Linked DNA regions of Homo sapiens: region 2 is linked to region 1. The links come from fine-mapping of genetic effects on gene expression. A gene starts in region 1. The other region holds a variant in brackets. All regions are shown on one strand. Distances are between the middles of the regions. Region 1 holds the start of CTNNAL1 (catenin alpha like 1). Region 2 holds the start of LOC105376216 (a long non-coding RNA gene).

The links. PIP is the estimated chance that this variant, and not a neighbour inherited with it, causes the effect.
Region 2: its variant is the best candidate, but not a certain one, in a credible set for the expression of CTNNAL1 in whole blood (TOPMed, PIP 0.63).

What each region holds. Positions count from the first base shown.
Region 1 is chr9:109,010,237-109,015,618 of GRCh38, forward strand. It overlaps CTNNAL1 (catenin alpha like 1), which reads right to left and starts at 3,263. Exons shown (of 19, transcript NM_003798.4): 1 at 3,066-3,263. The coding sequence starts at 3,206. TMEM245 (transmembrane protein 245) reads right to left here. Exons shown (of 18, transcript NM_032012.4): 18 at 4,899-5,382. RefSeq lists an enhancer at 2,451-2,954 and a silencer at 2,616-3,505.
Region 2 is chr9:108,983,610-108,988,991 of GRCh38, forward strand. It overlaps CTNNAL1 (catenin alpha like 1), which reads right to left. Exons shown (of 19, transcript NM_003798.4): 5 at 738-827. It overlaps LOC105376216 (a long non-coding RNA gene), which reads left to right and starts at 2,142. Exons shown (of 7, transcript XR_007061724.1): 1 at 2,142-2,386. The variant C/A (reference allele first, on the strand shown) is at 2,567.

The DNA.
Region 1 (5,382 bases):
GATTTTAGTATCCTACACTCAGTGAACTTGCCAACACTCCTAATTTTTATAATTTACTTGTAGACTGTTTTGAGTTTTCTGCATAGGTTATTATATCACACTGAGACTTTTGGTTTTTCCTTTCCTATATTTATTCCTTTTATTTCTTCTCCTTGTCATATTACACTGGCTAGAATTTCCAGTGCAGTGCTGAGTAGAAGCATAGCAGGCACCCCACTCTGGTTTCTGGCTTTAAAGGAAATGTTTATTTTAAATTTGACTGTTGCTATGATGTTAAGTAAAAGTTTTCTGTAGATACTCTATCAGGTTAAGGACACTTTTTCCTAACACTAGTTCCCTAAGTGCTTCTTATCATTATTAGAAGCTGAATTTAGTTGAATGCTTTTTCTGCATCATTGTTAGGAAAATACATCTTTTATAATCTGTGAATGCAAAAAAAACTATACACATTTTTCTAATATTGATAAAATCTTGCATTCTTAGAATAAGGCCAGTAACCCAGGACTTTTCACTTGGAGAGTCAGAAGAAGCTAGATGATACCAGAATAGAAACTGTCTACTTTAAACCGTATAGTGCCAGTCCTACTTGTTTACCTCAAAACCCTGCCTCCTCCATGACATCACTGCTGACTCATCCATGCCTTCTCTGAGCTTTTAGAGTATGTACCATTGATGATGTTCATTTGACACTTTGCATGTGCTGTTCTATACATGACCTATCTACCAACTAGAATATAAGCCCCTCAAAAAACAGCAACAAATAAGCACACAATAAATCCTTGCTTAAAATGCTTAAAATATCCTTGTGGATGAGATGGTGAAACATGAGTTGGGTAATAATACAGCATTCTCAGAAAATGAGACTTGTGGACATATGAGTTTTCTGGAGAACTGCTGTTTTAATCTCCTAACACTGAAACTTTAAAATCATTCTAAATTGTACTTCCCTGCTTTGTTAACCGAGTATTCTGGCCATGCTTAATACACTTCTTGATTTTAACTTTTTCTTGTTAAGGACAGTCAATTATGAGGAATATCAGTTATGGTGTTGTGGTAGAGATGTAGCTGTAGATACACAATGTGTGGGATGCAAAACCTCAGCTGTGACCCTGAACAAGGCTTTAACTGGAAAAAGAAAAAAAAAAAAAGGCAGGCATTCTTCCCCTTTGGCATTGACCTCTAACTCTCAGCAGTGATTTATACTTTTCTTCCTCTGCTCTCCTACCCTTCTCTGGCTTCTTTTACCCCAGAGTTACACAATGCAGAGCTGTAAGACTGATACATTTTTAGCAGTGGATACTGTGAAAAGTTGCCATTTCTCCAGATTATGACTTTCTAGCTTGTTTTTCCACTATGTACCATCTTTTTCTCTAGATCTCATTACTGCTTCTAATCTCTAGAGAGGACACAGCATAGTGTAGCAAAGAGAACCTTCTGGAGCCAGGGTACCTGGATTCAAATCCCAGTTTGGCACTTATTGAAAGCCCTAACAACAAATTATTTAACCTCAGTATTCCTCAGTTTCCTCTCCCATACCACGAGAATATATACCAACTTCACATGATTGTTATGAGAATTAATGAGTTAATATTTACAAAGTGCTTAGAACCTGGCCTACCACATAGTAAGCATTACATAGGTGTTATTTAAAAAATGGATAAAATACTATCAACTTGAACTCCATCACTCTCTTATCTCTCTGCCTCTTAAAACTGCTCCAGTGTTTCTCGTTTTGGTTGTGTTGTGCTAGTGGAGATAGGCGAGGAGCGGAGGGTCTGACATTACTGAGGGATCCCAGTGCCCCTTCCCACTGGTCAGAGCCTCAATGAGACACAGGAAAAGGGAAGGAGAGTGTCAGATATATTCATCACTGCTCCGTTAGCCATGCGAAGGTGAAGAAAATAGGGATGTTTATTTAACCAGCATAACAGGAATCCAGGGACATGTGTAACTGCTGTTTTCAAATATGCGCAGGGCTGGGCAGGAGAAGAGATAATAGCATTTAGAATTCTATGCAACAGCTACAGGCTCCCCTTCACTGAACATGTTTAAGCAGGGTACTGGTGGCCAGGTGTCAAGGATGCTAAAGAAAGAATTTTTAGTCAGATAATCTTTAAGATTTCTTCTACCTCTAAAATCTTGGTAATCCTAGTATGAGTCACGAAGTGGTTACAACCTAGATGTGAGTCACACATCGCCAACGCGCTCCCGAAGGCACAGAATTCACTCCCCACAGTGCTTGGCATCTTACCACAGACCTAAGTGAGGAATTCTAGCCCTGAAGCTGCATATAACCCAGCTCAGAGAAACAAAAACTTTCCTAAAACTCAGGGCGTCGGTTAGCTGATTGGCAAATACAGTAACGCACACATCCCAAACGGGACTTGGCAAAACGGTGTGCATCTGGATTAACTGTCATACAGTCTCCACGTCACTCTTCCACGAGGCCGGACAGAAGCGGGCAGAAGTGAGCAGCAGCAGGTTCAGGGGAAGGGGTAGGGTGGCCGGGATGAATGGGAGGCCAGCGAACTGACCTACGGCGGGGAGGGACAAAGGATCAGGGAGCGCACGCTGGGCGGGGAGGCCGGGAGGAATACCCCAGGCGGAGGAGCCGGGCTCGGGACCAGGCTGCGAACTGGTGACAAAGTCGGTTATCGTGGAGGGCCCTAAGTACCAGCGAGGGGCCCCGCGGGGGTCCTCTCTGCCTCGGGAGCTGGGCTCAACCACTCGCCCCGCGGAGGGGGCATCGCCCGGCCGGGGGCACCCGGGAGCCGCAGACCCGAGGCAGGTACTGGGGGCAAAGGCCCAGGCCGGCACCCCCGCCCCGCAGCCTCCCCTGCTGCCGAGTCCACTCAACCCTGCCGCCGGAGTTTGGATTATCCAGTCTCTCGCCGCCCGGGCCGAGGCCCGTCCCGGAGCCCCACACAGGCGGTCCGACAAGAACGCCGCAGTGCCGGCGCGGAAAGTGGGGCAGCGGCTGCCTCCCGTCCGGTCGTGCGAGCGGCGGCCGCCATCGCGGGCCGCGGCGGGAAGGAGAAGAGGGGCCGCGCCAGGCGCCACTTTACCTGAGAAACCAGCGGGAGTAGCGTCTGCTCCACCGAGCGAGTTTTGATCTCCAGTCCCGAGTCGAGGGCGAAGCCCGAAGAGCCGGAGCCGTAGACTGCTCCGGCGCCGCCAACGCCGGCGGGTCCGGGAGAGGCGGCCATGGCCCTCGGTCTATCCCGCAGCCGGGACTCCGCGCCGCGGCGAGCCTGCCGCCAGTCAGCCCACCCGCCCGAGGCGGCGGCGACAGGACACTCGCGCCAACCGAGACCCCGCCCCCAGGGGCCCGCCCCCCCAGGGCTCCGCCGCCAACCCTGCGTCCCCGACGCCCGTCACCGTATGTCCCCGCCCACCCCCGGCCTCTGCCCCGCCCGCGCAGTCCAGCCTGGTGTGGGCTCCCTGCAACCCCACCCCCTAAGCCGGGTCCCGCCCCCACATGGCCCCGCCCTTATCTCTTCTCAGACCCCTTCCATGGGTTCCAGGCACCTTCTCGCCAGGGTGGCGAGGAGAAACAAAACACATCTGTCACACAGCCACATGGCCTCCTCTTACTTGGACAGACAAGCGTCCCCAGCAAAGCTTCCCGTCCTCTCGATAGGTGACTCGTCCTAAATCAGCTCTGAATTCCCGCAAAGACTTCTGGAAGCTGTGCTGGGGTTGAAACTGGTAGACCAAAACCAGAATCAAGTCTGTTGGGAGGGGCCTTTCCCCTGGGACGGGAATTCCAGTGGTAATGTCTTCCTGGGGCTTCTCCGGAAGGTCCAATTTCCACTCCACCCTGCTCATTCTTTCACCATGTATTTCTCACAAACACTTTGAGCTGGATTGAAGGGGAAACATTTGATAATGCAATCATTAATGGAGTATCTGGGTATTCGGCAGGAAGTCAGTATATCTTTCACACTACTGTTTAGACTTATTCAAAAGAAATTTAAAAGAAACATGAAAAAGCCTCATCTACTGTTCAACACTACTTCTTAAAACTATTTTTCGAAGTTTTTTCCTAGTGCCAGGCACAGAGCAGTTTCTTCATAACTGTTCATTGCATGAAAACACCAAGTGTGTATTTCTGACAACTCACTTGAGGGGAAGGGTAAGAATCAGTTCTGTAAGCACAACTCTGAGCTCGCACAGAGCCCCACGATGGGGGCGGGGAGCTGAAGACTCCTATTCTAAGGTCTCCAGGAGCAAGGCCAAAAGGAGGTTGTCAGCAGTATGCACGCCGTGAAGGAATTCCAGACTTAAGCAACAGACTGAGAAGCATGAAAAAATGTTTTGTCAACTACCATATCTGCCAGTGAGAACCTGTCAGAGTAAAAAAGAATCTGAGGCTGGCCAGTCCACCCGGACACCTTGGCCTGGATCATTTCTTCTTCCATAACACCAGATTGATGAGCTGGGTACATCAACCTGAGGCATAAGAAAGCTCTTTCCCAAGCACCGTTGAAAGGCGCTTCACAGTGCTTCAACCTGTAGCTTCAGCTTCATCAATCTACCAGTGCTGCACAGCTGTCTTTGGTATTGAAGATAGCCAAGCTTCAGCTTCTTTTTCTTCATTCAAAAAGGACAGGTCCTCAATCCAACTTTTTCTTCCAATTCTTCTCAGCCAACCATCTCACCACTTCCTTACCTATCACAAGGCCACCTTCCCCTGTGCACTGAGGGCCCTTGACCTCTTTAAGGCGCCCAGTGTCCACTTCCTGGACACACCTTCCCTTACGAAGTTGACAGTATCTCCTAAGAATTCAGTGTACACAATGGTGCCGGAGGAAATGGCATAACAGAAGGCCTAAGAGACGGATGGATTCATGAAACTTTGGCTTCACAAAAGATCAAGTTTTTCAACACACAGGAGATTAAGTTTACCACATGATTCATTCAACACTAGTAATTTTATTTCAAAATATAAATATTTCACATTAATAAAGAAGTTACATCAGTAGGTTGTCAAAGCAAGTTAGCTAAGAAACAGCATTTGTGTGAGAACAGAGGGTATTTATTGTATTCGAATATTCTTTTTTACTTTTGAATTGCCTCCTTCACCTGAGAACCCAGGGATGATACATTTTCAAAGAGTTATGTAAGCAATTACAACTCTATATCAAATCTTAGTTCAAAATCAAATTGTACTGGAAATACACTTCAGTTACCTAAATAAGTGGCACTGCAAAGGGCAAAGAAGGGTTTTCTTTGGGATGGCTACAATGAGAGTTACATCTGCTGGGTCTCTGCAATAAAAAATAAATGATATTTGATAATAAGCCAAAATTATCAGGATTTGCTTCCATACTTTTCACTGTAAAATAAAAAGCTAGCAAAAAGCTAGTAAGAAACCAGATG
Region 2 (5,382 bases), 27 kb before region 1:
TGTTGCCTTACACATGCCAGAAATGAAAAAGAATGAAGAAAAATGAGATGATATATGATCATGGATGCATCTTGACTTTTAAAAAATGATGTAAATGAAAAACTCAAGGGCCTAGACAAAATAGAGTCTTCTGAGTGGGTTCCACGAAGTCTGTTTTTGTGGCTTCACTGATTCTAGCATGGGGTAAATACTCTCAGAAGAAAAGGTTATTCCAAACAAACTGCTAAAGAGACATTTTACTCATTCATTCTAGAATTGCACCAATTTGCTGGCCAACTGCTGTTTGGAAATACTCTTGATTGATAATTTTGTTAAAAGTGGAAACAGGAATTAAAGGGTGAATTTACAGAATAAACTAAGTGCTGACTTCTTACTCCACTGTATTTAACAGATCTTAACTTGTCTAGCTTTTTCTAGAGCATATGTGCTGGCTCCTCAATGAGACTGGAAAAACCCTGCAGGCAGCTACCATGTGTGACAGGCCTTAATTCATAGCACCTAATACACCATGTTCTGCTGAGCTGTTCAATCAAAGCTGACTCATAAATTAGTTATTATTTGGAGTTGGGGAAGAAAGTTAGCATTCTTATAAATAATAACTGAGATTTAACTATTCAGGCCTATGTTCTAAGTAATCACTTTGATCTTTTTTAAAATGTAAATTATGTAAGTTAAATGCATTTAGTCGGGTGTTCTAATTATTAATTTATTACACAGTAAAACCAAAATTGTCTTACCTTTGAAGCTGTGAGAAGCATCATTGTACACTTTTCAAGAACTGCCCTAGCTGCTGCCATTTTTGCCTTTTTCTTTTCATCTTTCAAATCCTAAATATGAAATAAAATCACGGAGGAGTCTAAGACCATGTGAACAACCCAATTTCTTAAAAAAGTATTTATTCAACACTAATACTCAAGAATTCACTAACATTGTTAAGTGAAAAAAAAAAAAAAACCAGGATAAAGTTTTACAAACTGTCACTGCTTCAATATAAACACATCAACACAATATGAGTAGAAAGAAAAAGCTACTCTTAGTAAGGGCTAGAGAGCCAGAAACTGAGACACAGGTAGAGGCTGCACATGGCTGACATTCTGGTGTTCTGTCATACCTGACATTCTCACGTCAAATGCACACACTGCGTCCTAACCAGAAACACCCAGCCTATGTCTTACCTAATTAAAAGTAAATTGTCTACTGAGCATCTATTGACTATTATTTCCTTCAAAACAGACACTTAAAAGTCGATTCTTTAAGGAGCCTCGTCTAATTAATCCCATCTAACTGCTATGCATCTCAAATTGGGGTTCGTTTGTCTTAATCTTAATCAATATGCTGCTCTGAAATATTCTTAAGATGTTTCTTGGGTAGATAATTTTCCCCAACAAGATTGAAAAGGAACACCTAAGAAAGCACTGTGTATTGAATTTGTTTTGGTGGGGGGTGACTTCTCCTCACAGAGCCCTCAATAGAATGTGTGCTATTCACATGAGGTAGCCAAAGTTTGCTGATCAAATCTACAACAAAATACTCTGTTAATAATTTGGTTATTATATCTAAATCAGAGGTGGGCAATACTTTCAATTAAAGCCCAGATAAACATTTGAGGCCTTCTGAGCTATATGGTCTCCATCACAGCTACTCAATTCTGTCATTGTAGTGTGAAAGCAAACAGAGACAATACACAAATAAATAAGAACAGCTGTGTTCCAAGAAAACTTTATGTATGGACATTGAAATTTGAATTACATAAAATTTTTCCCTGTCACGTTAGCCTTTTTTATTTGTAAGTTAGGTTAAAGGCCCCTTCTTACAAATAAGTAAAACCTAAAGTTTGAGAATGATTTGCCTTTGAAAGTAAATTTGCTTGAATAAATTAGAATGGATTCAGAAGTTAGTCCTACACAATAATATCACTCTCACTCACTTGCATCCCAATATAGATTTAATAAAAGATAGAGATGGAATTACAAATAGTGTACGACAAAGTGCATATAACCCCAAAGCTAATGCAGATCACATCCCAAAGAACTGTGTCCTATATGTGAGTATCATCCATCATGGGTACCTATCAGATAAAGGCTGAGGTTGCTTATAAAATTTCCACCCATTCCTCTTGTCTTTAACATTTTGGACAGGACTCCTTTCAAAACCACCTGTGGGTCTAGCTGACAATGCATCAAGTGTGTATGCCATACCTGACACTTACAAGCCACATATGACACCATAGGCTGTATGGTGATAACAAGCGACAGAAAAAGATGGCATCTCAACCTGGAAAGGGCTGGTCCACAGGACAAAACAGAGGCGTCCATAAAACCCAGATGGTCCATGAAGCACTAAGCGAAGCATCCCAATACCTCCAGAAGTATTTTCCCAGACTTGGGTAAGGCTGTCACTACTGCCACTTTCTTTTTTTTTTTAATTATTATTATACTTTAAGTTTTAGGGTACATGTGCACAATGTGCATGTTAGTTACATATGTATACATGTGCCATGCTGGTGTGCTGCACCCATTAACTCGTCATTTAGCATTAGGTATATCTCCTAATGCTATCCCTCCCC[C/A]CTCCCCGCACCCCACAACAGTCCCCAGAGTGTGATATTCCCCTTCCTGTGTCCATGTGTTCTCATTGTTCAATTCCCATCTATGAGTGAGAACATGCAGTGTTTGGTTTTTTGTCCTTGCGATAGTTTACTGAGAATGATGATTTCCAATTTCATCCATGTCCCTACAAAGGACATGAACTCATCATTTTTTATGGCTGCATAGTATTCCATGGTGTATATGTGCCACATTTTCTTAATCCAGTCTATCATTGTTGGACATTTGGGTTGGTTCCAAGTCTTTGCTATTGTGAATAGTGCCACAATAAACATACGTGTGCATGTGTCTTTACAGCAGCATGATTTATAGTCGTTTGGGTATATACCCAGTAATGGGATGGCTGGGTCAAATGGTATTTCTAGTTCTAGATCCCTGAGGAATCGCCACACTGACTTCCACAATGGTTGAACTAGTTTACAGTCCCACCAACAGTGTAAAAGTGCTCCTATTTCTCCACATCCTCTCCAGCACCTGTTGTTTCCTGACTTTTTAATGATTGCCATTCTAACTGGTGTGAGATGGTATCTCATTGTGGTTTTGATTTGCATTTCTCTGATGGCCAGTGATGATAAGCATTTTTTCATGTGTCTTTTGGCTGCATAAATGTCTTCTTTTGAGAAGTGTCTGTTCATATCCTTTGCCCACTTTTTGATGGGGTTGTTTGTTTTTTTCTTGTAAATTTGTTTGAGTTCATTGTAGATTCTGTATATTAGCCCTTTGTCAGATGAGTAGGTTGCGAAAATTTTCTCCCAATTTGTAGGTTGCCTGTTCACTGTGATGGTAGTTTCTTTTGCTGTGCAGAAGCTCTTTAGTTTAATTAGATCCCATTTGTCAATGTTGGCTTTTGTTGCCATTGCTTTTGGTGTTTTAGACATGAAGTCCTTGCCCATGCCTATGTCCTGAACGGTAATGCCTAGGTTTTCTTCTAGGGTTTTTATGGTTTTAGGTCTAACGTTTAAGTCTTTAATCCGTCTTGAATTAATTTTTGTATAAGGTGTAAGGAAGGGATCCAGTTTCAGCTTTCTACATATGGCTAGCCAGTTTTCCCAGCACCATTTATTAAATAGGGAATCCTTTCCCCATTGCTTGTTTTTCTCAGGTTTGTCAAAGATCAGATAGTTGTAGATATGCAGCATTATTTCTGAGGGCTCTGTTCTGTTCCATTGATCTATATCTCTGTTTTGGCACCAGTACCATACTGTTTTGGTTACTGTAGCCTTGTAGTATAGTTTGAAGTCAGGTATTGTGATGCCTCCAGCTTTGTTCTTTTGGCTTAGGATTGACTTGGCAATGCGGGCTCTTTTTTGGTTCCATATGAACTTTAAAGTAGTTTTTTCCAATTCTGTGAAGAAAGTCATTGGTAGCTTGATGGGGATGGCATTGAATCTATAAATTACCTTGGGCAGTATGGCCATTTTCAAGATATTGATTCTTCCTACCCATGAGCATGGAATGTTCTTCCATTTGTTTGTATCCTCTTTTATTTCATTGAGCAGTGGTTTGTAGTTCTCCTTGAAGAGGTCCTTCACGTCCCTTGTAGTTGGATTCCTAAGTATTTTATTCTCTTTGAAGCAATTGTGAATGGGAGTTCACTCATGATTTGGCTCTCTGTTTGTCTGTTATTGGTGTATAAGAATGCTTGTGATTTTTGCACATTGATTTTGTATCCTGAGGCTTTGCTGAAGTTGCTTATCAGCTTAAGGAGATTTTGGGCTGAGACAGTGGGGTTTTCTAGATATACAATCATGTCATCTGCAAACAGGGACAATTTGACTTCCTCTTTTCCTAATTGAACACCCTTTATTTCCTTCTCCTGCCTAATTGCCCTGGCCAGAACTTCCAACACTATGTTGAATAGGAGTCACCACTGCCACTTTCTTTTCCTTTTGAGACAGTCTCCCTCCCTTGCCCAGGCTGGAGCGCAGTGGCGTGATCTCAGCTCACTGCAGCCTCTGCTTCCCAGGTTCAAGTAATTCTTGTGCCTCAGCCTCCTGAGTAGCTGGGATTACAGGCACATGCCACCACACTCAGCTAATTTCTGTATTTTTAGAAGAGATGGGGTTTCATCATGTTGGCCAGGCTGGTCTCAAACTCCTGACCTCAGGTGATCCACCCACCTCAGCCTCCCAAAGTGCTGGGATTACAGGCATGAGCCACCATGCCCAGCCTCACCACTGCCACTTTCTACCACCTTGGTCCAGGTCACCATCATCTCTCAATAGATTACTGTAATAGCCTCTTGAGTGGTCTCCCTGCCTCTGCCCTTGTCTCCATGCAAACTATTCTCAACATGGCAGCTAGAGTGATACTGTTAAAATGTAAGTCAGAAAACGTCATTCTCCTACTCAAAACCTCCAATGGCTCCCCATTTTACTTAAAGCCAAAGTCCTTACACAGTTTGGCCTGCCCACTACCTCTCTGATTTCATCTTATTACCCTTCCCGTTTGCTCACTTTGATCCATCCATTGGCCTTCGTGTTCTTTGAACACACCATGCATGTTTCTGTTTTATTGTCTATCTCCTCCCACCCCTACTAAAACATAAGCTCCATGAGTGCAGAGGTTTTTGTCACTTTTATTTACTGTTGAATCCTCAACACCTAGTGTAGTATTTGGTTAACAGTAAGCAGCTGATGAATATTTGCTGAGAAAACTGAGAATGCACCTGACCTATAGCTCTTTGCAGGATATTTTGACTATTCTAAAGGAGAAAGCATTTGAACCCTGGATGCATATTCCAAAAAAGTGACCCAGGAGTAGCACTTATCAAACACAG